Linked DNA regions of Homo sapiens: all the other regions are linked to region 2. Evidence: fine-mapped expression QTL. A gene starts in region 2. Each other region holds a variant in brackets. All regions are shown on one strand. Distances are from middle to middle.

Region 1 (10,209 bases), 39 kb before region 2:
TGTTGCTTATATAAAAAATATATAGCACAAAATTTATAAAGTTCTCGTATCATTTCTGAAACTGACTTCTAATATTCAAGTATAATAAGGGTTTTTTTTAAATGGTATATATTTTTTGTTTGGTTGGTTTTTGTTTTGTTTTTTTGAGTCAGGGTCTCACTCGGTCACCCAGGCTGGAGTGCAGTGGCTCGATCATGGCTCCTGCAGCTTTGACCTCCCGGGCTCAAGTGATCTTCCTACCTCATCCTCCGAAGTAGCTGGGACTACAGGCATGTGCCACAACACCCAGCTAATTTTTGTAATTTTTGTAGAGATAGGGTTTCATCATGTTGCCCAAGCTGGTCTCAAACTCCTGGTCTCAAGCAATCCGTCCACCTCAGCATCCAAAGTGCTGGAATTACAGGTGTGAGCCACAGTGTCCAGCTTTAATGGTATATTTTGAATGTTCAAATAATTTTTCCTCATTTGTAATTAATTTTAAAGCTAAATCCCCAAGTAAGGTTCATTTTTATCTTGTTACTCAAATGTTTATATTTTTGTAATAGAACTTAATGTACTAAGATGTGATTATGGAAATTGAAGGGTAAGGGCAAGAAATTATATGGAATAGTTGTGTCAGTTTCCCAAACTGGGTGATTTATTATAATTACCTGAATAGTTAATAAAAATAGACTTCTGGACCCCATCTCACACCTACTTACATAGAATTACCAGGGGAAGGGCATAAAACTGAACCAGAATTTTCCTGACATCAATAACTAGTTTGACTTCTACATGTACCTGGTTAAGTATGAGGTTCACTGTTATACCCACTGTTGAAGACTATTTGTAGATCTTATATTTTAGAAGTTGGTGATATTGCTATGATCCAGTATCCACTGGACCAGTTCCTAAAACCCAATGGTCCTAGAATATTATGTTATAGCAACATCCCCTACATACTCAACTGAGCATCTAGAGAATAAATAGAAACAACAGCACCAAGACAGTGAGTTAACTCTAGCACTTGTTAAATATTTAAATTATTATCCTTAGAGAAATGACATACTGCCTCAAAATATAATTATTTTCAAAGTTATATAAACATAAATTTTGCTTAACAATGAATACACCATGAAAAAACAACTGCTCTAAAATAAAATGACCAAAAAAACCCAACAACATCCAAGTCCATAAAGTGGCACAACAAATACCTCCTTCTCATTCAACAGAACTATTAACAACACAAACAACAGATGAATGGATAAAGAAAATGCGGAACAGACATACAATGGAGTATTATTGAGCCTTAAAAAGAGGAAATTCTGACACATGCTACAAATGGATAGACCTTAAAGACATCATGATGAATCACAAAAGGACAAATACTGTATGACTCCATTTCTGTGAGGTACTTAGAGCAGTCACAATCATGCAGACAGAAAGTAGAATGGTGGTTGCCAGGAGCTGGAGATGGGGGAGTGGAGAATATTGTTTAGTGAACATGGAATTTCAGTTTGGAAAGATGAATAAAGTTCTAGAGATGAATGGTAGTGATGGTTGCAAGACAAAGTGATTGTACTTAGTGCCACTAAACTGTACACTTAAAATGGTAAATTGTATATTGTGTGTATTTTATCATAGTAAAAAAATTGCTGAAGGTAAAAGAAGAGATAATTGCAGGAAAAGATGAAGGTGATGGGTTCTTTCAAACAACTGGAGAGGTTAGCCTTCGATAAGAGCAAGGGAATTTCAGAGGAAAGATAAACAATATCCAAGAGAAGCAGATTAAGTAGGTTGATTTGGTGAGAGAAGGGAGATGTTCCTAATCTCTCTTTGAACTAGGGAGCAAGATCCACAGCTGAGTGAATGGAAATAGCAGGAAAGGGAGGGAAAAGGGAGAAGGTAGGGGGCAAGGAGGGAGGGAATAAAGGAATTAAGATGATTTTAGAGGCTGGGAAATCAGACATACCAGGAAGGGGGACTAAGTGCCTGTTTTAGATCTTATCATGAATAGAAACTAGGAACAGTTAGCACAATTTTGTGTTTTTCTCTCACGATGTACAAGTGATTGGGAATAAGTACAGAATAGGTGGATAGTTGGGTTTAATCAGGGTTGTGGTTTTGCTAGGCAAGTATGACAGAAAAAAGTGAGGAAGTTAAGAATGTTTGTAAGGGACTAATTACAGTAGATCTTATAGTTAAGTTTATTTTTCTTTCTTTTTTTTTTTTTAAATGAGACAGCATCTTGCTCTGCCACCAACCCAGGATGGAGTTCAGTGGCGCAATCTTGGCTCACCACAACTTCTGGCCCCTGGGCTCAAGCAATCCTCCTGCCTCAGCCCCGAGTAGCTGGGACTAAAGGTGTGCACCACCATTCCTGGATAATTGTTTTTGTGTTTTTTATAGAGACAGCATCTTGCTATGTCGCCCAGGCTGGTCTCAAACTACTGAACTCAAGCGATCTGCCCACCTGGACCTCCAAAAGTGGAGCCACCACACCTGGCCAGTTAAGTTCCTTTTTTTTTTTGAGACAGAGTCTTTGTCGCCCAGGCTGGAGTGCAGTGGCGCATTCTTGGCTCACTGTAACCTCCGCCTCGTGGGTTCAAGCCATTCTCCTGCCTCAGTCTCCCAAGTAGCTGGGATTATAGGCTCAAGTCACCACGCCGAGCTAATTTTTGTGTTTTTAGTAGAAACAAGGTTCCGCCATGTTGGTCTCTTATAAGGAAGAAACTAAAGTTCTTTTTAAGGGGTGATGGTGAAAAGATGACAGATGATTTAATTGATAGTTTAAGACATCATATGGCTAGCATGGCAGTTCTAGAATAAATGAGCCGGGATGATAGTGTGTGGAGGTAAAAGTGTAGGATTCTTGAAATTAATGTGGTAGAGGTGATGCAGTTACTGGCTCATATGGTTGGTGCACAAACGACAGAAGGTAAGAACTGTGGAAAACTGAAAACCATGGTATGAAGAAGCCAAACTGTGAGGTGCAAACAAGCTGCCTCTTTTCTCTTTTTTTTTTTTTTTTTGAGACAGAGTCTCGCTCTGTCGCCCAGGCTGGAGTGCAGTGGCGCGATCTCAGCTCACCGCAAGCTCCACCTCCCAGGTTCACACCATTCTCCTGCCTCAGCCTCCTGAGTAGCTGGGACCACAGGCGCCCGCCAACACGCCCGGTTAATAATTTTGTATTTTTAGTAGAGACGGGGTTTCACCGTGTTAGCCAGGATGGTCTCGATCTCCTGACCTCGTGATCTGCCCGCCTCAGCCTCCCAAAGTGCTGGGATTACAGGCGTGAGCGACCGTGCCAGGCGCAAGCTTCCTCTTTTCTATAAGAGGAGTGGGGTTAATGACTAAGTCATTTCATAACCATTTGGTAATTAATACCAAATCTCTTGGATTTTATTTATTTCGCTTATGCTTCCTATTCTGTATATTGTACGTCTGACTGAAGAATATGGTGCTTTTCATCTTTACCATTAAGTCTCCTCTATGTAGCACAGTGCCTGATATACAACATGAGTTTGGTACATATTGTTGAATAAATAATGAATGCATAAGAACAAATCAGTGCACAAGTTTCAGGAAAAAACTATTTGGAAAGGAAATTTTAATCTTAAACCAAATAATTTCAAAATGTAACAGCTGATGGTAAGAACCAAAAAGAGGGCAAAGCATGCCCATACGCTAATCAGCATGTGAAAAAAAAAAACAAAACTTATGAGTAGTTCATTAAAAAGAAAGCAAACTTTACATACCTTATAGTTTGCTCTCCTGATTCCTGCATCTTGGCTTTTTTCACCTGCAAAAATAAATATACAAAGGTATCAATGTACTTGATCTGTTTTTTAAATCATTTAGCTACTCAAACAACAGGCTATTAACTATTACAGGATAACTGTTTAATTTTGTTTAGTCTAGATTTAATTAACCCTTGTTATATTTTAGAGCTAGAAATGAAGTTTGTTTTTTAAATGGAGCTCTTCTTTTTAATGAAAAAAGTGTTCTTCTGATTAAAAAAAAACTGTTTACCAGAATTTTTACTCAAGGTAGACAGAATGTTTACTAGGATAAAGTATCCAAGCTTTGATACAAACTAGTTGGTTTTATACTGTAACAGGCAAATTATATTTAAACAAACAGTAAAGATGGGAATCTAAGTATCATCTACTCATTTATTTAACAAAAATGGCTTTATACTTAAGTTAGTTTAGTGTCAAAAATTAATATGAATTCTTATCAGGTTACCAGTAATTTAGAAAATATTGTTAACCCTGTATTTTTTCTTTTCATATTTCACATTTTCTATTTCCTTCTGGGGAGAAGGCACTTCCATTGAAACAGTGTAAGAATCCACAAATGAAAGATAATGGTTAATACTAATGGATTTTTCTGTTTTCATATTACAGAGAATCTGATTTTAGAACTCTCTGGTTAGAACTGGTTGTAGTAGAAACATGTCTAATATGCTTAGCCATTCAAATTATGAATATTTAAAAGTATTTCAAGCTAATAGAAGAAGGCAGAAACTCTCCTAGATAATTTGAAGCAAGCGTATCAGGTGGAATCATAGATATTTAATATTACATTGACTATTTCAGACAAGGTAAATAATACAGGCAAGCCCCATAAAATTTGTCGTGGCCATATACTCCTCATGAGAATACACAACCATGACCAGACATTCTTGGTTCCTTGCTTATGGCATGTCAAAATGTGTTCCATTCAATGTTCTCTTAATTTTCATAGTTACCAAAAAGGAGAAAATAAAGAAACAAAGGCAATTTAAAAAAACATTTCTAAATTTGAAACAAAAATTACATTAAAGCATTTGAAGCAAAAACAAAAAACGAAACCTTGAGGTGGGCAAATCCTGATTAAGCATGACATTAAATCCAAAAGCCATAAAGGAGAAAATAGATATGATTACACAAAAATTTTAAACTTCTATATGATAAAAGACACCATAAAACAACCAGGAGGTTGAGGGATTCCAGGATAGTATGCAGACTGTGACAAAAAAATCTAACTGTATTACCAATGTATACGACTATCTCACTGAAAGAGGTGAGGGAAATATGATCTGACCTAGATAATATAGGAAAACAGTGTTTTGCCTGGAAACTATAAGGCTAAAGACAAGAAAAATTCAACTATCTAGTTTATCTGCCTGCCATAATTTCACAAATGACAAAATATAGCCTTTTTTTATAAAATGTTCTGCCCTTCCTACCTAAAGATGATAGTAGTTACATATGGTCAGATAATAATATATTCTTCCAATAGTGGAGATGAATTTATGCTTAGCTCATCCAAAGACTCTTTGCTATCAAAGAAATGTAATTACGAGCTGGTTGGCTGAGTAACCAAAACAGTCTATACTCTTCAAACAGTAATTTAAACAAAGAAAATTAGAGCACTGAGGAGTCTAACTTATCATAGTCTTCATTTTATTAGAGGTATAGAGCAACAAATTTAGTTAATCAACTCCAAAAGAAAAAAGGATTTAAAAAAAAGGTCCTGGAGCAACATTTTTAAATTTACTTTTTATTTATTATTATTATTATTATTATTATT[A/T]TTTTTTTTGAGACAGGGTCTTGTTCTGTCACCCAGGCTGGAGTGCCATGGCGTAATCTCGGCTCACTGAAACCTCTGTCTCCCGGGTTCAAGCAGTTCTTGTGCCTCAGCCTCTCGAGTAGCAGGGACCACAGGTGCACACCACCATGCCCAGCTAATTTTGCTATTTTTTCTATTTTTAGGAGAGACCGGGTTTCACCACATTGGCCAGGATGGTTTCGAACTCCTGGCCTCAAGTGATCCGTCCACCTTGGTCTCCCAAAGTGCTGGGATTACAGGCGTGAGCCACTGCGCCTGGCCAAAAATTTATTTACTTTCAAGGAAGAATTATGCTTCTTTACGCTCCTTCATTTTTAATTTATTACCGTGCCAACCCAGTGCAGAGTATATATTCATAAATAGAAAGGGAGAAAATGTATCTAAAGTCATATCTACCAAGCAGAAAAGTCTGGGGAAGGAAAGGGTGTTACAATGTTTTTTTTGTTTTGTTTTGTTTTTAACCTCATATGGCCCATTGTTTGTCTTGATTTGAGCAATTATGCCCCCCTCTAAGGCAGGGATAGGAAGCATGTACTAACTAGGCAGTAGAGGCAGGTAAATTAACTAAAGAAGACAGACAGATTTTACTCAATTATAGAAGTATCAGTTCAAACAATACAAGCTAGAAACTGACAGAAAATGATTCCTGGTTGTTAAGAGAAATAGCAAAGATTGAGCAACAATTTTCTGGAGAGTTTACAGAGTAACATAGTACTTGCAATAATGAATACTGAAAACTACACAGCAAAGTGAGCAAAGATTCAAGTAGCAACCAGTCCTACAGAGAACAATTTTCATTAACAAAACCAGTATAGATTATACAAGCAGCTGGTATCCAAGGAATTGGGGCCATACCAGGACAGTAGTAGGACAGTAATACAAGCTGCCAGGAAGTAAGAAAGCAATAAAGCTGAAAAAGCTCCGTTAGGGTTAAAAGTGAAAAAATCAGAATCTCTTTTTGCATGACATAATTTTGTATACAGAAATCCTAACGAATCCATTAAGAAACCACTAGAACTGATAAACAAGTTCAGCAAGGCAGCAAAATACAAGACAAACATACAAAAATCAATTATATTTCTATATACTTGCAGTGAACAATTCAAAAATGAAAAAAAAAATCCATTCACAATAGCATCAAAAGGAATAAAATACTTAGGAATATGGCCGGGTCCAGTGGCTCACGCTTCTAATCCCAGCACTTTGGGAGGCCAAGGCAGGTGGATCACCTGAGGTCAGGAGTCCGAGACCAGGCTGGCCAACATGGTGAAACCCCATCTCTACTAAAATACAAAAATTAGCTGTGTGTGGTGGTGCACGCCTATAATCTCAGCTACTCAGGAGGCTGAGGCAGGAGAATCGTCTGAACCTGGGAGGTGGAGGTCGCAGTAAGCTGAGATTGCACCACTGCACTCCAGCCTGGGTGACAAGGCAAGACTCTGTCTAAAACAAACAAACAAACAAAAAAACTTAGGAATAAACCTAACAGAAGAAGAAGTACAATACACGTTAAAAGAAATTTAAGAAGAGCTAAATAAATGCAAAGACACCCCATATCCAGGGAAAGAAGAATTCATCTTGTAAAGATGGTAATACTCCCCAAATTGGTCTACAGTCAATCCAATCAAAATCCCAGCTGGCTGCATTAAAGAAATTCACAAATTGATCTTAAATTTCATATGGAAATGAAAGTGACCCAGAATAGCTAAAACAATCTTGAAAAAAAAAAAAAAGAACAAAGTTAGAGGACTCACATTTTTCCATTTCTTTTTTATTTTTATTTTTTAAGACAGAGGCTCACTCTGTCACCCTGGCTGGAGTGCAGTGGTGCGATCTCGGCTCACTGCAACCTCCACCTCCTGGGTTCAAGCATTTCTCACGCCTTGGCCTCCCGAGTAGCTGGGACTACAGGTGCGTGCCACCATGCCTGGCTAATTTTTTTGTATGTTTAACGGAGATGGGGTTTCACCATGTTGGCCAGGCTGGTCTCAGATCTCAGGTGATCTGCCCACCTCGGCCTCCCAAATTGCTGGGATTACAGGCATGAGCCACTGCGCCCAGCCCCATTTTTCAATTTCAAAACTTACTATAAAGCTAGAGTAATCAAGACCGTGTGGTACTGGCATAAGGATGGATATATGGATCACTGGAACAGAATTGAGAGTCCTGAAATAGACCTCTACATTTGTTGGGTCAACTGATTTTCAAGAAGGGTACCACATTTACAGTCAAATTATTTTCAGCAAAAGTGCCACGATGATTCAACGAAGGAAGAATAGTCTTTTCAACAAATAAAGCTGAACTCGTACCTCAAGCCATATGCAAAAATTAACTGAAAATGGATCAAAGCACTAAATGTAAAAGCTAAAGCTATAAAACTCTTAGGAGAATATGTATGCTCTCATCACTTGTAAAAATATAGGCCGGAGGCAGTGGCTCACACCTGTAATCCCAACACTTTGGGAGGCTGAGGCAGGTGGATCACGAGGTCAGGAGTTCAAGACCAGCCTGGCCAAGATGGTGAAACCCCATCTCTACTAAAAATACAAAAATTAGCCAGGTGTGGTGGCAGGCGCCTGTAATCCCAGCTACTTGGGAGGCTGAGGCAGGGAACTACCTGAACCCGGGAGGTGGAGGTTGCAGTGAGCCGAGATAGTGACACTGCACTCCAGCCTGGGCAACAGAGTGAGGATTGCTTAAGGTCAGGAGTCTGAGACCAGCTGGGCAACAGAGTAAGACCCCATCTCGACAAAAAATTTAAAAAACAATTGGGTGTGGTGGCTCACACCTGTAATCCTAGGTACTCAGGAGGGTGAGATGGGAGGATTGTTTGAGCCCAGGAGTTCAAGGATGCAGTGAGCCACGATTGTGCCACTGTACTCCAGTCTGGGTGACAAAATGAGACCCCGTCTCAAAAAAAAAAAAAAAAAAAAAAAAACAGAAAAAGAAAAAAGGAAGATGCCTTAAAATTTATTCTGGTAATGGTTACAAAACCATTTTAGAATAGACTAAAAACTACTGCACTGTATACGCTAAAAGGGTGAATTGTAGGATATGTAAATTACATGTCAATAAAGCTGGTATCTTAAAAAATGACATAATCCTATGGGCATATAATGGCTAATGATAACACAAAAAGAAAGAAGCACTGACAAATTCATAAATCAGCATTCTATTTTTGCTTCTGCTACAATGTATAATCACACTTTAAATATAACACAGCAAGGAAACAAAAAACCCAGTATACAAATTCAGAATATCCAGGCTCAAGGCTAAGTTCTGAGAGTTAATTCACTGCGTGTCTTTTCTGTATCTGTTTCTTCACCTGTAAAAAAGAAGATACAACTACCTACTTCATAGGGCTCATGTTTCAACAGCAGGAAACAGCAGCATTAACAGTACAAGGATGCTGGCTGAATAAACTTAAGGATGTGCACTGTTAACATAATATGTAAAGATGAAATTTAAACAGGAAAAGAGTGAACTGCTTATGAAAAACAAAGCGCTATGTAATTGTTAAATTTTAGTGTTATTACCATAGACAGCAAGAACAAAGTTGAATCCCAGAAATTTCAAGACAGGCTTAAGAAACAGGACTCTCTAGTTAAGAAAATTGTATTAAGCATCTCAAATGTCATTCTGAAATTACTCTGTGATGACTTACAAGTAATGGCTATGAAGGTTTAAACAAGAGGCAAAAGCATGCTAGTGCTAGGTAAATTGTAATCTTGGCAATAATAAATATAATGGTAGGGTAAAAGTCGTCATGGAGACTATAAAAAGGATGTTTATGTCAAGATTTATCCAACACTGTCCAACAAACAGAAGGACACTGTTCTGTTTACTAAAAAGTCATATTCCATATGCTAGAGGGGTAAAGGGTTTGATCATAACCTAGATGAAATTTCACACAAAAAACAATTTAATGCCATTTTCATTGACTGTGCTTACTAATAGCTATCTAATTATTAATTTGACTTCAAGAACTTAACATAAGGAAAGCAGGACCTAGAGAGGGAGGTAAGCATTCCAAATTATTAGAGAGGTAAATATTTATGGCAGAGACAACTTCCTGTTCTACCACTGCATGTTAGGTGTGACTTCTGATGGAGGCAAAAAAATCTTTTTGTCTTCTCTATCAAGAAGAGTAATCTACAAAATGTAAACAATAGCATACCTAAATTTTTCAAAAAGAGTTTATTCCCATATTTATAAGCAAGCACCTCAATTATTTTAAATAAGTTCTAACCCTCCAGATTCACAGAAGCTTTATCCCATAGACCTGTAACTTAACAAACATGATTGCTAAACCAGTGTTTATCATCTCTGAAAAATCACAGAGAATAAGAGAGGTGCTTGAAACAGAATATAAAGAAATGAGGACAAGGTGGGGGACCTGCTTGAGCCCAGGAGTTCGAGACCAGCCTGGGTAACAGGGCAAAACCCCGTGTCTACTGAAAATACAAAAAAATTAGTTGGGTGTGCTGGTAGTCTCAGCTACTTGGGAGGCTGAGGTGGGAGCATTGCTTCAGCCTGGGAGGCGGAGGCTGCAGTAAGCCAAGATGGCACCACTGCACTACAGCCTGGGCGACAGGGTGAAACCCTGTCTCAAAC
Region 2 (10,209 bases):
ATCACTTGAGCCCAGGAGGCAGAGGTTGCAGTGACCAGAGATTGTGCCACTGCACTCTAGCCTGGGCGACAGGGCAAGACTCCGTCTCAAAAAAAAAAAAGAATAGTACCCTTATTTCATAGGGTTGTAAAGATTAAAGAGTTAATACATGTAAACTACTTAAAATAGTTCCTGGTACATAGTAAGTGCTGTATAAAGTTCACTTTTATTTTTACTGTTTTACCACTACAGAGTTTCATGGTTCAGTTGTGAAAGTTTCCCAAGTGAAAATTATTTGATTGTATCTATAACGAAAGAACATGATTTTATGTTAATTAAGTTTATTTAATTCTAATTATGTTGTCTTACGTTTAATTCAGAAATGTACAAATAAGATCAAATTCAGAATTTAAGTGTACATATCAGCCTGGTACAATATTACCTAGCCACATAAATAGCCTAAATATGTATTACTGTAACTGTACACAGTAGGTGCCTAAACAATATTTGCTGAAATAAATGTATTACAAAGAGTATTGCTAATTATTTTCTAGGGAAGAAAATGAAAACCATCTAACTGCTACAAACATTAACCACAGCTAATAAGTTAAAGTGCATCCAAAACAATCTGTAGTAAGATCTTCACGATATTAAGCACTGACTGCCTTGGGCTGATCTGTTAACTTATTTACAGTAAGTTGGCACTATTTAAACTACACATTCCTTTTCTGATTCAAAATACTATTGCATACTTAAATGGGAAAACAGCAAAGACAAATTTTAGGAAGCCCATATTTTAAATGGCTGTTTTTAAATATACTACTATAAAGAACAGAGAAAATGCCTAAATTACTTCTACATTTAATAATTAGCTACCCTGGAACTTAGGTTGATGGAACTAAATAAAAATATCAAGGATGATATGTTCCATTATTTGCTATGTTATCTGACAGTAAAAGATACCAGTATCAACAGGGTAGTTTAGAGCTTAAGCCATACACTTTGTAAAAGAATATGCACTTGTATTTTTAAGTTAATTAGAAAACAGAAAGTCCACCTATTTTCCACCTTACTATCAATATAACAATTCAACCTTTTGGTATAAACCAATTAGATGAACATCTGGGAAGCATTGACTATTCCAAAATATATATATATATATATATATATATATATATATATATATTTTTTTTTTTTTTTTTTTTTTTTTTTTTTTTGAGATGAGTCTCGCTCTGTCGCCTAGGGTGGAGTGCAGTAGCACGATCTCAGCTCACTGCAACCTCCGCCTCCCTGGTTCAAGCAATTCTCCTGCCTCAGTCTCCCGAGTAGCTGGGACTACAGGCATACGCCGCCACGCCCAGCTAATTTTTTGTATTTTAGTAGAGATGGGGTTTCACCGTGTTGCCCAGGCTGTTCTCCAACTCCTGAACTCAGGCAATCTGCCTGCCTTGGCCTCCCAAAGTGCTGACTATTCCTAATATTTTAAAATACACATTTCTATTTTGAACTATTCTTCCTCCATTTAAATCATACATGAGCTAAAGTATCCTGTTGTTACATGCAGAACAGAAATATCTTTTGGACAAACCGCTACCTAAAAAGAAGTTCCATGAGGCTTTTATTTATAATCAAAACAAAATAAATGAAGTCATGAAACAGCTTAGGCACAGCACAGAAACCATAATGCTACAAGGTACAAGTGACAAGGACTTGTTGGAGGTATACTTTGTTTCTTAAATTTTCAAAACTACATCAGCCGCCTGTGGGTGGTGGCTCACACCTTTAATCTCAGCACTTTGAGAGCCCGAGGCAGGCAGATTGCTTGAGTCCAGGAGTTTGAGATCAGCCTGGGCAACATGGTGAAACTCTGCCTCTCCAAAAAAATTTCAAAATTAGCCAGGTATGGTGGCATGAACCTGTAGTCCCAGCTATTCTGGAGGCTGTGGGAGGATGACTTCAGCCCAGGAGGTCAGGGCTGCAGTGAGCCGAGATCGTGCCACTGCACTACAGCCTGGCCAACAGAGCAAGGTTTTGTTTTGTTTTTTGTCTCAAAAAAACAAACAAACAAACAAAAAACTACATCTCCGTAAACACAGGATTCAAGGACCAAAAAACAAACAAACAAAACAAGTAAGACAAAGTACATTAGCAAATAAAATGACAAAAAAGAACCAAAAATAATCAAACCAAACCAAAATAAGAAAACTTGGTAAGCCTAAAACTAATATGCAGAAACATATTTTAAATTGAGCCCTTAGGGCTACCAACTAAAGTAGAAATTTTTGTAGAAAATCAACGGTAATTTTTTTTCCTGAGCTTTAAAAACAAACACACATTAAGCTGTCTCTGGGTTTGTTTGTTTGTTTGTTTGTTTGTTTTGGTTTGGCAGCTAGGTGGAGGGTCAGGCTTGAAGATCAGCAGCATGGAACACAACTGCTCCAATGACTACACAGGATGCTCATTTCATTTAATGGCTTCAATGCAGAATATACAGGCCAAAGTCATTTTAGAAGAACAAAAGACTCCTAAAACTTTTCAACTTCTACTTCTGCACAAAACAGTTTCTTTCTCTAGTCACTCTTTGAAGGCAAAATGACTTCGGCTTTGGATTTTAAAATCCATGTCACAGATTTCTTATCCTAATAGTCTCATTCATATATGACATATACTGAAATGACCCACTAAATACTATATTGTGCTTTCCAGCCTACAGCTTTAATGGAATTAACACTCGCTACTCTTGAGAGCATGTATAGGACTTCTTGACTTAAAAAAAAATGACCTTGGAAATTAACTGTTTAAGTTGTAATTTCTTTTTTTTTTTTAAGAGAGTCTCACTCTGTTGCCTTGTGGAGCGCAGTGATGTGATCACAGCTCACTGTAACCTCAAAATCTTGGGCTCAAGCAATCCTCCAACCTCAACCTCCTGAGTAGTTGGGACTACAGGCGCACACCACTACACCAAGCTAATTTTGTCTATGTTGCCCAGGTTGGTCTCGAACTCCTGGCCAATCCTCTGGCCTTGGCCTTCCAAAGTGCTGGGGATTATAGGTGTGAACCACCATGCCAGACCTAAACCCTAATTTCTTTATGTTTTGTAAATAAGAGTGCCACTTCTTACTAGTGACAATGGTATATAATCTTTATAACTAGATTTTATTATTTTCTATTGTTTTGAAGACAGAGTGATTTCCCATCATTTTTGGGGTTTAATGTTCTTATCTTAATCTGCATTAATTAAGCTGGCATTCCCATGGCTTAAATGAAGCCCACAAACCTGAAGGTAAGGAAGCAGCTGGAGTAAGCCATACACATTGGGGTTTGTTTTGAAGGATGGAAAATAGGCCAGGTTGGACAGAAGCTAGAGCTAGGTAGTGGGGAGGAGGTACACATAAGAAACTTTCAAAGAGGCTTCACTTAGCAGTTAGATAAGTCCTGAAAGCCAATCAGAAGGGTCCTTCTCCGTGGCTTCTAGGACTAACATGGCCAAGCTCCAAAGTCCTTTGCTAAAAACAGCTGAAGAGAGCCCAATTTTGGAATAAGCCAAGGACTATACACTCTTATATGTATATGTATCATATAATGAAGATTTTTCTATAGCTAATTAGCCAAAAGATAAGCAGGTGCTCAAAGCTGTATTTAAGTTCATACTGAAGTACTACATTTTAAAGCACAATTTATAGATTACAGAAACTGATGACACAAAAACCGCTGCAATCAAGTGCTAGATATACACTATAAACATCGGGAAAAAATAAAGATTACCCAAGCCTATACTCTAGATCACAAAATTTGGGAAAGGGAGCACTAACCATTATTAAATGCAATTCCTTCATGTTATAAATGACTTTAAACCTCTAGGGAAATTTAAGAAAGGTGCCCTAAATCTCAAAATGAGAAAATGATAGTTTTACTACAAAGGTGGAAATGGTAAGGAAAAAAAAATACAAAAGTTAGAAGAATATTCTAAGTAATGTACTTCTAAGTAATGTAATTCTAAGTAAAGTCTGGCTAATGAAGGAAGAGGAAGACAAATAGAAAACTTAATACAGTAAAAATGAAAAAATGCATATGTGCATACTAAGTTTAAAGATTACTTTGAAATTACTATAGTGAACTCTTCAGCAGACCACTTTTCGGAAACAACACAATAAATTCATAAATCTGGGGCTAATGATCTCTCCACAAATTCTGTCCTCTATCATCACAAGTGTCCTGTAAGAAGCGTCCATGCCGAAAACAGAGCTGAACGTCCCAAAATATTGGCGTTTTTGCCTCAGCTGTGCACATCCATTCTCATGGGAACACAAAACTGACAGAACTTCTTCATGACTTGTCAATTAACAAGATCGCGCCAGCCCAACTGCTAGCAGTACCGTGTGCCTGCCACCTGTTAGCTGCTCTTGAGAGAGCCCCAAAACTGAGGTAAAGCGAAGAACTAGGAACGCCTTTGTTGTACCCTAACTATGGAAGCTACCAGAGTTCAGTCTAACCCGGCGCCTTAAGGCAAAACTTCCCCCAGGCTGGGGAAGTCTTCCCATTTCGGGGCTTTGGCAAAGCTCTCCTCTAGCTAAGGACAGGCAGAAGAACCCCAGGAGAAGCACTGTCACCTACTGGTCCCAGGAGGAAGGATCAAAGCTGAAGAAAGTTGGGGGACAAGGAACTAGGACCCTAGGGAGAGGCTCAGTTTCTCGTGGTGAAGAGTGAGCACAATGAGAAGCTGGGCCGTCTCGCTAGGTGAAAGAACGCTGAGATCCCAGATCAGGGGTAGGGGAAAAGAGGTTCTAAAAGAAGGGAGGAGGAGAAAAAAGGAGAGGCAGTGGCTGAGAGAAGCGCTGAGGCGTAAGGCAAGAAACCGAGGTTGGAAAAGGACTGATGAGGCTGAGGAAAAACAGCGAGGCGACAGAGGCACGGAAGCGCGAGAAGGCTAAGCTGAGGTGAATAAGGCGAGGCCAGCGTGAAGGAAAGGGCTGAGGTGAGTGAAGCACTGCAGTGACAAGGGACAGGCGAAGAGACTCCCACCCACAAGGACCGAGGCAGAACTCTAGACCCATCCCCCTTCACGCTGTGCTCGCCCGGCTGCGCTCAGACCCTGTTGGCAGCTGAGACTCACCCAAAGGCTGTAAAAGCCCCACAACAGGACATGGAGATCAGTCCAGACCCACAGTAGAACCAATCGAGCGGAGGAAACCGCGGCGTTAGCGTGACCCGGATGCGCATCGCTAGGAACCGGAAGTAAGCGGCCAGAGTCACCTCACAATCCACACCTCGTTCCACTAGAAACCTCTGGGCGCATGTGTTGAGTCTGACCGGGCGGGGAAGCTTTTAGGCTCCGCCCACTCCGCCGGCCCGGCGAGCCACGCCCATGGCCACGCCCCTCTTAGTGCCTCGGAGACAAGCAGCTTCTGGGTGAGCGCTAGGCAGTCCTGACGGTACTACAGCCTTCACTTTTAAGGAGGTCTTTAAAAATGCGCGTAATCCCTACCTGGCTAAAAGGAACGTAAGAAGTGTTGGGTGCATTTGGTAGATTTAGAAAAACTGGGAAGGAGAATGAGTGGGAAGTTTTGGAAGACATTTGGGAGGCTAGCCCAAGGTGATCTTTTTTTTTTTTTTTTTTTGAGACGGAGTTTCGCTCTTGTTGCCCAGGCTGGAGTGCAATGGCGCGATCTCGGCTCACTGCAACCTCCGCCTCCCGGGTTCAAGCGATCCTCCTGCCTCAGCCTTTCGAGTAGCTGGGATTACAGGCATGTGCCACCACGCCCGGCTAATTTTGTAGTTTTAGTAGAGACGGGGTTTCTCCATGTTGGTCAGGCTGGTCTTGAACTCCCGACCTCAGGTGATCCGCCCGCCTGGGCCTCCCAAAGTGCTGAGATTACAGGCGTGAGCCACCGCGCCCATCCCTTTTTTTTTTTCTTTTTTTGAGACAGAGTCTTGCTCTGTCGCCCAGGCTGGAGTGCAGTGGCGCGATCTCGGCTCACTGCAACCCCCGCCTCCTGGGTTCAAGTGATCCTCCCACCTCAGCCTCCCGAGTAGCTAAGACTACCGGCGCGCACCACCACGCCCGGCTAATTTTTGTATTTTTCGGTAGAGACGGGGTTTCGCCATGTTGCCCAGGCTGGTCTCCAACTCTGGAGCTCGGTTGATCCCTTGGCCTCCCAAAGTGCTGGGATTACAGGCGTGAGCCCCAAGGTGATCTTTTTATCCCCAAATTTAGTTTATTCTTAATATTATATTAGGCTTACAATTCACTTCGTGCACACTGTTTTCGGAAGCAAAATTCTTAAATGTTTCGTTAATTTTAAATTACAACCCAAGTATGGGCTAGAAGCAAGGTTGAATTCAGGCTTTGTGGAGACTTGACGTTTATTCAATTTGGGGGCCCTCTTTAAAATAATCAAGGCCAGGCACAGTGGCTCATGCCTGAAATCCTAGCACTTTGGGACGCCGAGGTCGACCGGTTGCTTGAGCCCCGGAGTTGGAGATCACCTGGGCAACAAAATTAGACCCTGTCTCTACAAAACAAACAAAGCAAAACAACAACAAAAAAAACCCAGAAAAATTAGCCAGGTGTGGTGGCACGCACCTAACTGAGCCCAGGAGGTAGAGGCTGCGGTGAGTTATGATTATGCCACTGCACTCCAGCCTGGGCAACAGAGCGAGACTGTCTAAAAAAAAAAAAAATCCAAAATTACAAATACAATATTAGATATAAAAGTGAACCTTTTATAATGAGAAAAATTACAAACATTTTTATTAGCTCACAAATACCACGAATAACAAAATCCAGAAAAAAAACTATTTTTTCTACATTTTTTGACTGTATATTTGATCACCTCTTCCGATGACAACAATGTACTAAGCAACATCATTTACTAAGATCCTTAACTCCTCTCTCATATCCCACATGTACTCCATCAGCAAGTTCTGCAAGATTTGCCTTCAAAATCTGTCCAGAACCTGACCATTTACTGCCTCCGTTGGTATAAACCAGTCAGTCAGTGACTGTGAGTGCCCTATTTATACTCTTGCCTTCCCACAATCTTTTTTTTTTTTTTTTTTTCAGACAGAGCCTCCCTCTGTCACCCAGGCTGGAGTGTACTGGCCTGATCTTGGCTCAGTGCAACCTCTGCCTCCTGGGTTCTCCTGCCTCAGCCTCCTGAATAGCTGGGATTACAGGGGCCCGCCAGCACGCGCGGCTAATTGTTATATTTTTAGTAGAGACGGGGTTTTGCCATGTTGGCCAGACTGGTCTTGAACTCCTGGCCTCAAGTGATCCACCCGCCTCAGCCTCCCAAAGTGCTGGGATTACAGGTGTGAGCCTCCACGCCCGGCCCCCACAATCTATTAATATAGTAGCAATGGGCTCCTGTTAAAACCCTAATTAGATCATATCCTTCCTCCAATGCATTCCTATTTCAGAGTAAAAACCAAAATCCTTACATTGGTCTACAGGACCCTCAAGATTTGACACCTCCAGTACAGCTCTGCTCTAACCTCAACTCCTACTCCTTCTGTCATCCTTCCCCTTAAAGCACATTGGCCTCTGCCATTCCTCAAAACTACAGGTAGGCCCAGGGCCTTTGTGCTTTTTAATCCATCTGCCTGGAGTGCTCTTCCCCCAGATACCTGCATCATTCATCCGCTCACCTCATTTACATCTTTATTCACATGTCACTTTCTCAATGAGATCTTCCCTGACACTACATTAAAAATTGGAACACTACCATCCTCTTTGTACTTTCCCATCCAACAAGTTGCTTGTAAATTTGGCTTAGTGTCTCTCTCCCCCTGCCAGAATGTAAGTTCCATGAGTCCATGGATGTTTGTCCGATTTGTTCACGGATGTTTTTTCAGCACCAGAATGGAGCCTGGCACACTGTAGGCACTCAGTAAATGTTTGTTGAATGAAGGGCTAAATTGCTCATTTACTTTGGTTTTCCTGATCTGAAACCCTGCAAACTGAGCCACCACCTCCACCAGAGGGAGCCCATGAGTAATCAATGCAATAGCTCCAGAAAAGTTATGCCTAAAGCATTTACATACATATACACTCTGTTTAAGGACAGGAATATGTTCTGAGAAATCCCTCGTTAGGTAGTTTCATCATTGTGCGAACATCGTAAAATGGACTTATACACACCTAAGCTATATGGTATAACCTATTGCTCCTAGGCTATAAATCTGTATAGCATATGACTGTACTGAATACTGTAGGCAATTGTAACACAATGGCAAGTATTTGTGTATTTAAACATATAAAAACATAGAAAAGGTACAGTAAAAATATTAAATAATCTTATGGGACCACCATCATATATGCATTCTATCATTTACCAAAATATCATTATGTGACAGCTATGATTCTAAAACAGAGCTACAAGAAAGCATGCAAATTCCTCCCCAGAGCAGAAGCTGTACCTTGCTGGTGCTCTAGTGTCTTTACAGTCATTTAAGAATAAAATCCAGGCTGGGCGTGGTGGCTCACGCCTATAATCCCAGCACTTTGGGAGGCCGAGGCAGGTGGATCATGATGTCAAGAGATCGAGACCATCCTGGCCAACATGGTGAAACCCCGTCTCTACTAAAAATACAAAAATTAGCTGGGCATGGTGGCATGTGCCTGTAATCCCAGCTTCTCGAGAGGCTGAGGCAAGAGAATTGCTTGAACCAGGACCTGGGAGACGGAGGTTGCAGTGAGCTGAGATCGTGCCACTGCACTCCAGCCTGAGCTACAGAGTGAGACTCTGTCTCAAAAATAATAATAATAATAATAATAATAATAATAATAAAATCCAAAGGCCGGGCACGGTGGCTCCCATCTGTAATCCTAGCACTTTGGGAGGCCGAGGCAGGCAGATCACCTGAGGTCAGGAGTTCAAGATCAGCCTGGCCAATATGGTGAAACCTCATCTCTACAAAACATACAAAAATTAGCCAGGTGTGGTGGCAGGCACCTGTAGTCCCAGCTACTTAGCAGGCTGAGGCATGAGAATCACAGGAGGCAGAGCGTGCAGTAAGCCGAGATGGCACCACTGCACTCCAGCCTGGGTGACAGAGTGAGAGACTCCATCTCGAAAAATAAACAAATATATAAAATAAAATAAAATAATAAAAATAAGACCTCTAATTTATATATTTCCATTTTGAAAAGACATGATGAATGTATGATCAGTGTTTTATAATAGCTATTAATTTAAACCCTCCTGATTGACATATATGAAGTACAATGGTCTGGATTTTATTTCTGTTGATGTTCTATATTGTACTTGAGGCAATTTCTTATGATATACATGATCGTTGACCTTCTAAAAGCAATCAGTAGTTGGTAGGATTGTAAAATGGTGCAACCTTATGGAAAGCCATATGGTGGTTCCTGAAAAAAATTGAAAATAGAACTAACGTATGATCCAGGAATCCCCTTCTGGGTATATATCCCTAAGAATTGAAAGCAGGATCTCCAAGAGATATTTGCACACCCATGTTCATGACAGCACTATTCACAATAGCTAAGAGATGGAAGCAACCCAAATGTTCATTGATGGATGAATGTATAAACAAATTTGGTATACATACAATGGAATACTATGCAACCTTAAAAAGGCAGGAAATTCTGTCTGGGTGCAGTGGCTCATGCCTGTAATCCCAGCACTTTGGGATGCTGAGGCGGGTGGATCACGAGGTCAAGAGATCGAGACCATCCTGGCCAACATGGTGAAACCTTGTTTCTATTAAAAATACAAAAATTAGCTGGGCATGGTGGTGTGCGCCTGTAGTCCCAGCTACTCAGGAGGCTGAGGTAGGAGAATCGATTGAACCCAGGAGGCGGAGGTTGCAGTGAGCTGGGATCACACCATTGCACTCCAGCCTGGTGACAGAGCAAGACTCCACCAAAAAAAAAAAGAGCATGTACACATGCTACAACATGAATAAATCTTGAGGACATTATGCTAAATGAAATAAGCCACTCACAAAAGGACAAATACCATATGATTCCACTGATATGAGTTATATAAATTAGTCAAATTCATAGATATGGAAAGTAGAATGGTGGATATAAAGGGTTGGGGAGAAAGGACAAAAGGGAGTTTCTTTAATGAGTATAGAGTTTCAGTTCTCCAAGATGAAAAGGTTGAGATCTGTTTCATAGAAAGCAAATATACTTAACACTACTAAACTGTATAATTAAAAATGGTTAAGTTGGTAAATTTTATGATATGTGTTTTTACCACA
Region 3 (10,209 bases), 80 kb before region 2:
GTGGACCCAGGAGGCACAGCTTGCAGTGAGCTGAGATCACGCCATTGCACTCCAGCCCAGGTGACACAGCGAGACTCCGTCTCAAACAACAACAACAACAACAACAACAACAACAACAACAACAACAACAAAATTAGCCAGGCATGGTAACGGGCACCTGTAATCCTAGCTACTTGGGATGCTGAGGGAGGAGAATCATTTGAACCCGAGAGGCAGAGGTTGCAGTGAGCAGAGATCATGCTACTGTACTCCAGCCTGGGTGACAAGAGCAAGACTCTCTCTCAAAAAACAAACAAACAAACAAACAAACAAAAAAACCCACACCTACTAACAAAAACATTAGTAACCATATGAAATAACTGGAAGTAACAGGACAGGTAAAGGAGGCAAATATTTTTATTTTTAGAGATGGGGTCTCGCTAAGTTGCCCAAGCTGGATTCGAACTCCTAGGCTCAAGCAATCTTCCCACCTCAGCTTCCTGAGTAGTTGAGACTACAGGTGCATGCCACTGCACCTGGCTGGGGTGCAGATATTTGTATAAAATTTATTCATATAAACTGAAAAACATGAGCTTGGAGGTAATTTAGAATAGAAATACACAGCCTAATAGTCTCAAAACAGCCCATCCTTCTGTTAAAACTGATATGTACACTGAAGATATAACAAGTTTTGCTTGGTGTATTTAGTTTAAAAAGGGATTAATCTATTTTAGAAAGATATTTTATCTATATATTTTACTTATATATATCTGGCATATATTTGGCTAAATAAAATGCTCAATTTGGGCTGTTAAAAGTGTGTTAAGGAATAAGACATCAGCCTCTGGAATTTATTAATATAATCTTGAGACTCTGCTCTATTTTGAGCCTCATTTCTATACTTTAATCTTCACAAAATGCCATTCTCCTACAACTTCAGCTTTCAGCATTGGTTCTAGTAGTTTCTAACTTTACCACTTTACCATCAATTCTGCCTGACCATGTAGCCTGCCTAATACAAGCCATTTGCAAGCCATTTGTTGAAGTTTTACATGGAAAGTGAAAAGCCAGCCAACAGGGGTAGCAGAGAAATAATTTGTTATGTGTCAGAAGAGGGACTGACTATATAGTCAGAAGAGGGACAGTTACAACAAAGAAGACTCAAATTACCTTTCCATATTTCTGGGCATAGGATCCAGTAAGAAGTGAGTGGAAGATGATGATGGTTTCATCCAAGTCCCACAGAAATACCCGCTGAGGAAAGAAAATATAAAAAATGAGTATATTTTCCAATTACAATGGAATGAAACCAGAAATCAATAACAGAAAGAGAACTGGGAAATTCATAAATATGTAGGAATTAAACAATACAATCCTAAACAACCAATGCGTCAAAGAAGAAATCATAAGTGAAATCAGAATATACCTTGAGTTGAATGAAAACAGAAATAAAACATTAAATTTGTGGAATACAGTGAAAGCAGTGCTAAGAGGAAAAATTATAGCTTATTTTATATATATGTATTACATTTTACATATATATATGTATTTTATACATACATTAAAAAAGACAAATGATCCCAAATCTATGACCTAATTGCATATCTTAAGAAACTAGAAAAACAGCAAAATAAACATAAAGCTAGCAGTAGGAAGGAAATAACAATGGCTAGAGCAGAGATAAATAGAAGAGAGACTACAAAAACAACAGAGAAAAATCAATGAAACAAAAAGTTGGTTCTTTGAAAATATCTATAAAATTCACAACCTTTGGCTAAATTGACTAAGGGAAAAAAAAGAAGATTCAAATGACTAAAATCAGAAATGAAAGTGGGGACATCACTACCAGTTTTATAGAAATAAGGATTACAAGAGAATACTATGCACAGTTGTATACCAAGAGATTGGATAACCCAGGTGAAATGGTCAAATTCCTAGAAATACATAGCATAAAGTACCAAAACTGTCTCAAGAAGGAATACAAAATCCGGTAAGAGCTATAACTAGAGTAAGGAGATTGAATGCATAATTAAAAACATCCCAACAAAGAAAAGCCCAAGACAAGATGGTTTTAATGGTGAGTTCTTCCAAACATTTACAGAATTAACACGAATCCTCCTTAAACTCTTACAAAAAAAGGAAGAGGAGGGAATACTTCCTGACTAATGCAATGAGGCATTATCCTGATACCAAAGTCAGACTAAGGCACTGTAAGAAAACTACAGACCAACATCTCTTGTGAAAATCAATATAAAAATACTCAACAGGCCAGGCACAGTGGCTCACACCTGTAAACCTAGCACTGTGAGAGCCTGAAGCAGGCAGATCGCTTGAGCCCAGGAGTTTGAGACCAGCCTGGACAACATGGCAAAACACCGTCTCTACAAAAAAACACAAAAATTACCCAGTTCCGGTGGTGCATGCCGGTAGTCCCAGCTACTTGGGAGGCTGAGGCGGGAGGATCACTTGGGCGTGGGAAGTCAAGGATGCAGTGTGCAGGGACCACACCACTGCACTCCAGTCTGGGCAACGAAGTGAGAACCTGTCTCAAAAAAAACCCAAAAAACAAAAAACCCCCAAAAAACCACACATCTATAAAACTAAACAAAATAGAGGTAAACCAAATTCAGCAGCATATTAAAAGAATTAAACATCATGGCCGGGCATGGTGGCTCATGCCTATAATTCCAGCACTTTGTGAGGCCAAGGCAGGAGGATCACCTGAGGTCAGGAGTTCGAGACCAGCCTGGCCAACCTGGTGAAACCTCGTCTCTACTAAAAATACAAAAATTAGCTGGGTGTGGTGGTGCACACTTGTAGTCCCAGCTACTTGGGAGGCTGAGGCAGGAGAATCACTTGAACCCAGGAGGCAGAGGTTGCAGTGAGCTGAGATTGTGCCACTGCACTCCAGTGTGGGCAACAGAGAGAGGTTCTGTCTCAAAAAAAAAAAAAGAATTAAACATCATAACCAAGTGAGATTAGTTCTCAGAACATAAGGATGTAAGGATGGTTCATTCAACATTAAAAAATTAATTAGGAGTGCAAAAGGCTTATTGGAAAAAAAAATTATGCAAAGTAATGCATCACATTAATAGAACAGAGGGGGAAAAAGCTACATGATAATCTCAACTGATGCAGAAAATGCATTTGACAACATTCAACACCCTTTCTATTCCTAGTTTATTATTTTTTCAATAAATGAGGGATAGAAGGGAATGTTATCAATATGATAAAGGCCATATATAAAAAATCCATAACTAGCCGGGCGCGGTGGCTCACGCCTGCAATCCCAGCACTTTGAGAGACTGAAGCAGGTGGATCACAAGGTCAGGAGATAGAGACCATCCTCGCTAACATGGTGAAACCCCATCTCTACTAAAAACACAAAAAATTAACCGGGTGTGGTGGCACGCGCCTGTAATCCCAGCTACTCAGGAGTCCGAGGCAGGAGAATCGCTTGAACCTGGGAAGCGGAGGTTGCAGTGAGCTGAGATCATGCCACTGCACTCCAGACTGGGTGACAGAGCATGACTCCATCTCCAAAAAATAAATAAAAAATAAATAAAAATAAAAATAAATCCATAACTAGTACCACACCTAGTGGTGAAAGACTGAAAGTTTTACTCCTGAGACAAGGATGTCTGTTTTTGCCACTTCTATTCAACATAGTACTGGAAGTTCTAGCCAGAGAGATTTGGCAAGAAAGGGGAAAAAGACATCCAATTTGGAAAGGAAGAAGCAAAATTATCTGTTTGCAGATGACATAATCTTTTTTTTTTTTTTTTTTTTTTTTGAGAAAGAGTGTCGCTCTGTCACCCAGGCTGAAGTGTAGTGGTGCAATCTGGGCTCACTGCAACCTCCACCTCCTAGGTTCAAGCGATTCTCCTGCCTCAGCCTCCCAAGTAGCTGGGATTACAGGTGTGCACCACCAGGTCCGGCTAATTTTTTTTTATTTTTGTACTTTCAGTAGAGACAGGGTTTTGCCACGTTGACCAGGCTGGTCTCAAATTCCTGACCTCAGGTGATCTGCCCACAAAGTGCTGGGATTAGAGGCGTGAGCCACTGTCCCTGGCCGATGTGATCTTATATGTAGAAAACCTTAAATAACCCAGAGAAAATTGTTAAAGCTAATAAATAAATTCAGATATCAGCTGTATTTCTTTCTTTCTTTCTTTTTTTTTTTTTTTCCGAGACAGTCTTGCTCTGTCACCCAGGCTGGAGTGCAGTGGTACGATCTCGGCTCACTGCAACCTCCGCCTCCCAGGTTGAAGCAGTTCTCTTGCCTTAGCCTCCCGAGTAGCTGGGGTTACAGGCGCCTGCCACCATGCCCGTCTAATTTTTGTATTTTTAGTAGAGACGGGGTTTCACCATGTTGGTCAGGCCGGTCTTGAACTCCTGACCTTGTGATCTGCCCACCTCAGCCTCCCAAAGTGCTGGGATTACAGACTGAGCCACTGCGCCCGGCCAATCAGCTGTATTTCTATATACTTGCAATGAATAATTTGAAAAGGAAATTTAAAAACCTTTTGTGATAGCATCAAAAAGAAAATACTTAGGAATAAATTTAACCAAGTAGGCATAGCTAAATAAACGGAAAGACATCCATGTTCATGGATTAGAAGACTTAATATTGTAAAGAAGACAATACTACCCAAACCAACCTACAAATTCAACGCAATCCCTATCAAAATCCAATAGTAGTTTTTTAAAAAAATAGAAAATTGCATTCTAAAATTCTTATGAATCTCAAGGAACCCCAAATAGCCAAAACTGTCTTGAAATAGAACAAAGTTGAAGGATTCACACTTCCTGATTTCAAAACTTACAGTAACCAAAACAGTGTGGTACTAGCATAAGGATAGACATAGAGACGAATGAAATAAACCGAGAGTCTAAAAATAAAGCCTTACAAATATGATCAATTTTTCTTTTTCTTTTTTTAGTTTAGTTTTTTACCTTCTTTTAGTATTTAACCTACAGCCAACATCATAAGTTAATTTTTAA[T/C]AGGATGCCAAAACCATTCAATAAGGAACGTCTTTTCAACAAATAGTGCTGGGAAAACTGGATATCCATATGCAAAATAATAAAGTTAGACCATTATCTTACACCATATACAAAACTAACTCAAAATGGAGAACAGCCTAAATTTAAGAGCTAAACGATGAAAATCTCAGAAAAAATACATAAAAATCTTCATAACCGTGTATTAAGTATTACACCAAGAAAACAAAACAAAACAAAAAGAAACAACAAGTATTAGACCAAAAGCACAGCAATAATAGAAATCAGACTTCCTAAACATTAAAAATTTTTGTGCTTCAAAGCACAAAAATTGAGAGAGTGAAAAGACGACCTACAGAATGGGAGAAAATATTTGAAGATTATATATCTGATTAATATAAGGGATTAATAATCTAGAATATTCTAGAATATTAATATAGAATATACAAAGAACTCCTACAACTCAACAATGAAAAACCAAACAACCCAGTTTAAAAGTGGGCAAAGGTTCTCATGCTTGTAATCCCAGCACTTTGGGAGGCTGAGGTGGGTGGATCACCTGAGGTCAGCAGTTCAAGACCAGCCTGGCCAACATGGTGAAACCCCGTCTCTACTAAAAATACAAAAATTAACCAGGCGTGGTGGCATGTGCCTGTAATCCCAGCTACTCAGGAGGCTGAGGCACAAGAATTGCTTGAACCTGGGAGGCAGAGGTTGCAATGAGCCGAGATTGTGCCACTGCACTAGGGAAATGCAAATCAAAGCCACAATAAGATACCACTTCACATCCATTAGAATAGCTATTATCAAAAAAATGGGAAATAACAAGTGTTGGCGAGGATGTGAACAAACTGGAACCTTTATGTATCGCTGGTAAGAGTATAAAACCGTGCAGCCACAATGAAAAATAGTTTGGTGGTTTCTCAAAAAGTGGAGCACAGAATTACAATAGCATCCAGCAATTCCACTCCTACATATATACCAAAAAGAATTGATAAGATGAACTCAGATAGATAATTGTACACCAATGGTCAAAGCAGCATTACTCACAATAGCACAAAGGTGACAAACCCCAAGTGTCCATCAACAGATGAATGGATAAACAAAATGTGGTATATACATATAATAAAATATTCAGACATAAAAAGGAATGAAATTCTGGTATGTGCTACAACATGGATGAACCTTAAAAACATTATGGTAGGCAGGGCATGGTGGCTCACGTCTGTAATCCCAGCACTATGGGAGGCCGAGGCAGGCGGATCACGAGGTCAGGAGTTTAAGAACAGACTGACCAACATGTTGAAACCCTGTCTCTACTAAAAATACAAAAATTAGCCAGGCATGGTGGTGTGCACCTATAATCCCAGCTACTCTGGAGGCTGAGGCAGGAGAATCACTTGAACCCGGGAGGCAGAGGTCACGGTAAGCCGAGATCGTGCCACTGCACTCCAGCCTGAGACTCCATCTCAAAACAACAACAACAACAACAACAACAACAAAAAACCATTATGGTAAATGAAATAAGTCTGGCACAAAAGGATACATTTTCTGTGATTCCACTTATATGAGATATCTAGAATAAGAAGTCAAAGACAGAAAGTAGAATAGAGGTTACCAGAGGTTAGAAGAAGGGGAGAATGGGGAGTTACTGCTTAATGGGTACAGAGTTTTCATTTGGAATCATGAAAAAGTTCTAGAAATATACAGTGGTGATGGTTAGACAATATTGAGAATGTATAATGACACTAAATTGTACACTTAAAAATGGCTAAAATGGTAAATTTTATGTATATTTTAGACAATTAAAAAATGAGTTATCAGTTTTTCCTAAGAAATATATCAGAAATTTACTTTTTCTTTCTTTCTTCTTCACTCCAAACCTCTGAAAAAAGAGAAAAGGCTTCAAATACAGGCTCAGTTCACCTATGTCTTAAGAGCACTTATCAATGGATTCATAGTTAAATATGTATTTTCCCCTCAGTACATAATAGCACTATAGAAAAACGGAAAACAGAAAACAAAAAGATAATACAAAAACTCCACTAATTTTAGCACTCTGCATGACCTTTATGTCTTTAATGATGAAGTCAAATGTATGTCCATAATAAACTCATATAGTACTTACACTACAGAATAAATCAGCACCAGTCTCATTAATAAGTTACCAGATCTGTTTGCGCCTTACAGAAACTTGGCTAAAAGCACTCTAGTCCTTTCCTTTTAAATTTCTTTTCTTTTTGAGACAGAGTCTCACTCTGTTGCCCTGGCTGGAGTGCAGTGGCCCGATCATAGCTCACTGCAGCCTCAACCTGCCAGGCTCAAGTGATCCTCCCATCTCAGCCTCCCAAGTAGGTGGGACTACAGGTGTGCAGCTAATTCTTGTATATATATATTTTTAGAGATGGGGGTCTCACTATGTTGCCTAGGCTGGTCTCAAGCGATCCTCCCGCTTCAGCCTCCCAAAGTGCTGGGATTACAGATGTAAGCCACCGCACCTGACCCTTTTAAAATTTTAAATAGAGAACAGTATGACTTTACTTGTAACTCCCTCTGCTTTCTGAATATGATGAATTGTTTCTGTTCTCTTCTGGAATATACAGAATAATTTGTTCTTTTTACATTTTTCTTTTAACGTGGCCAATTTAGTTTATTTTGCTCAGGAATTAAAGGGCACATAACATAGTGCACATTATCTCTGTGAGCTTCAAAAACATGTTTGATAAACTTAAGAAGTGAGAAAGAACAAAGTAGGTAACTAAATCAGTTTCTTCTCATACTTCTAATTCACTGTCTTGGGAAGAAGTGGCATCAGCTTTCCTCTTGCCCCGGTTCTTGCTAGTCATGTTTTTCCTGGACTGATCATCAGTATCTTTACTTGGTGTAGTCTGGGACAAAGATGGACTTGTAGAAGGGTCTCCTGGAAAGAAAAAGTGAAACATATGTTGTCAGGAGTCACAGGCTATAAGAATCAGGGCAGGAAGAGGGTTAGTGGACTCTCTGCCCTTGTGAGTCATAATGCAGGGATAAAGGTTGGAAAGCTAAACCTTATGTAAGCAATTATGAAGTGTACATCTAGGCATTGAGCATCAGCACTGGCTAACATCAGAAAAGTTATAACCAGACTTTATATGCTTACCCCATGATAGAAGAAAATATCAATGAAGTTGTTTTGCCAAGAAAAAGCTGAACCTGAATCTTCATGGTCAAACTTGTAGATTAGAGTTTCTCAACCTGGCACAACTGACATTTTGGATCAGATAATTATTTGTTGTGGGGGGATGTCTTGTGCATTATAGGATGTTTGGTTAAGCAGTATCCTTAGCATCTACCCACTAGATGCCAGAAGCACCGCCCCACCTAGTGTAACAACCAAAAATGTTTCCATACATTGCCAACAGTTGAAAACAACTGTTCATTCACCAATTTACTATAAAATACAGAAGGCAGCAGGACATGTTAAACCACCTTATGAGGATATAACTGTCAAAATTCAGACTGGGAAACAGTATGGGATCAACACTCCAGTTTCTTCAACAAACAAACTACAAGGGGGAGAAAAAGAGACGGGAGGATTTATAGGTTAAAATAGAGATGAAACACAAAATACCCATAATTACCAATCACAATTTATGGACCTTATATTTGGATCCTAATTTTCCCTCCTCAAATTTTCTATTTATTTATTATTTCTATTTACTAATGCGATAAAAACTGTATATGCTTTATGTTGTTTTGAAATATGTATACACTGTGGAATGGGTTGGATCCTACTTTAAACAAAAGGGAAACAAAACTCATAACATTTATGAGAAAGCTGGAAATACAAATACATTTTGGTACTTGATAATACAAAATTAAGACATTATTAATATTGAACTTTTAAAGATGGGATAATGCCATTGTGGTTATGTTAATAAGTACCATACTTATCTTTTAGAGAACAATGCCTGGAATCTGGGGAGGGAGCTAGATGATGTATAGCTGAAACAAAATTGTCTATAAGTTGATAACTGTTGAAGATGAATGATGGATATGTAAGTGTTCATCACACTAGCCTTGCAACTTTTCTCTATGTTTGAAATTCTCCAATATTCAAAAGTTAAAATTGTTATAACAAAGATATTTAGAAAAATGACTTTAAAACCTTAGTTTTTAATCAACACTTGTAATTATTTCAAATTTATGTAAGTTTGAAGTGGCGACCATTTGTATGTCCACTTATTAGACTGGTAGGGTGACCGCACAGAAAACTGTTCACTTGTTATATAGTACTGTTTCTAAACATGCATCAGTGCCAATGATAAACAGTGCTTTCCTCGAACCACATGATGTGAAAGCCAACTACCAAATTTTCATTAAATATAAATAAAAAGTGTGTGTATATATATGTTTATTAAATGTGTGTCTAATCTTTTATGTCAAAGGTTTTTAAGTTGGACACTGTAATTCATTGATACACTTCAGAGCTGTGAGCATACTGAAATTGTAGGTTAAATTGTATATATTTCTCTGAGGGAAAAGGACCATGCTTTCCTCAGAATCTTAAAGGGATCCTGGACATAGAAAGAACTATGGCTCTGAGGCCTTAGCAGCAGTTCAAAACCTGCGCAAGACTAAAACTGGAGTCCTCCAACTTTTACAAAATATTATAACATGCTGAAGCTCCCTGTGGCAAGTGGGTTAAAGCTACAGGGAGGGTAGAGTACGAGTCAGAAAGAGTCTTTTAGTTCTTGATACTTTTCTGTTCCGTTCTCAGCATCAGGTATACATTCAGCCTACCAATGACTCACAGCCTGCTTCCAATACTCCTCACCTCAGAGGGAAAGCCAAAAGCATGGTAACAATGACTTAAGACAGAACAAAATCATCCTTACCATTGCCTAAAAACAACTGTTGGATGAAGTGACCTTAAGCCAAAGTTTTCAGAGCTGCGGTGCTTACCAGAGGAAAGTCTCTGTGCTGCAGGTGCAGGCGCCATGACACTAGGCTTCTCCGACTGGTATGTGGTTGCTGCTAATGTGGTGCTCTCTGCATCACTGTTAGTCTGACCTGTGACTCCAAAGCTGGAGCTGGGGTAGCAGGCCTGGTACTGATTCTGACCAAGAATAGTATAGGTGGGATAATCCTGCAGGCCAAAGGAAATAAGAAAACAAGACTCTTATAGCATACATTAATCTCAACACAAGAGGCTTTCTTCTCCCTCTTTCTTATTCATAATTATTTTTC

Direction of the effects. Positions count from the first base shown, and alleles are read on the strand shown. Sizes are in standard deviations (SD) of each study's normalised expression. Not every link is listed here.
In carriers of allele A in region 1, the expression in subcutaneous fat of the gene that starts at base 5,179 in region 2 tends to be lower than with T alone (small effect, 0.28 SD a copy in FUSION).

Evidence for each region.
Region 1: its variant is fine-mapped to the expression of EYA3 in subcutaneous fat (FUSION, PIP 0.91).
Region 3: its variant is fine-mapped to the expression of EYA3 in whole blood (TOPMed, PIP 0.98).

The regions. Positions count from the first base shown.
Region 1 is chr1:28,044,646-28,054,854 of GRCh38, forward strand. EYA3 (EYA transcriptional coactivator and phosphatase 3) reads right to left here. Exons shown (of 18, transcript NM_001990.4): 3 at 3,738-3,781. Among named protein-coding and RNA genes, the nearest start is that of EYA3, 39 kb to the right of the region's middle. The variant A/T (reference allele first, on the strand shown) is at 5,557.
Region 2 is chr1:28,083,432-28,093,640 of GRCh38, forward strand. EYA3 (EYA transcriptional coactivator and phosphatase 3) reads right to left here and starts at 5,179. Exons shown (of 18, transcript NM_001990.4): 1 at 5,093-5,179. RefSeq lists enhancers at 4,779-4,838, 5,049-5,118.
Region 3 is chr1:28,003,187-28,013,395 of GRCh38, forward strand. It overlaps EYA3 (EYA transcriptional coactivator and phosphatase 3), which reads right to left. Exons shown (of 18, transcript NM_001990.4): 9 at 9,925-10,108; 10 at 7,761-7,900; 11 at 1,150-1,233. Among named protein-coding and RNA genes, the nearest start is that of XKR8, 48 kb to the left of the region's middle. The variant T/C (reference allele first, on the strand shown) is at 4,984.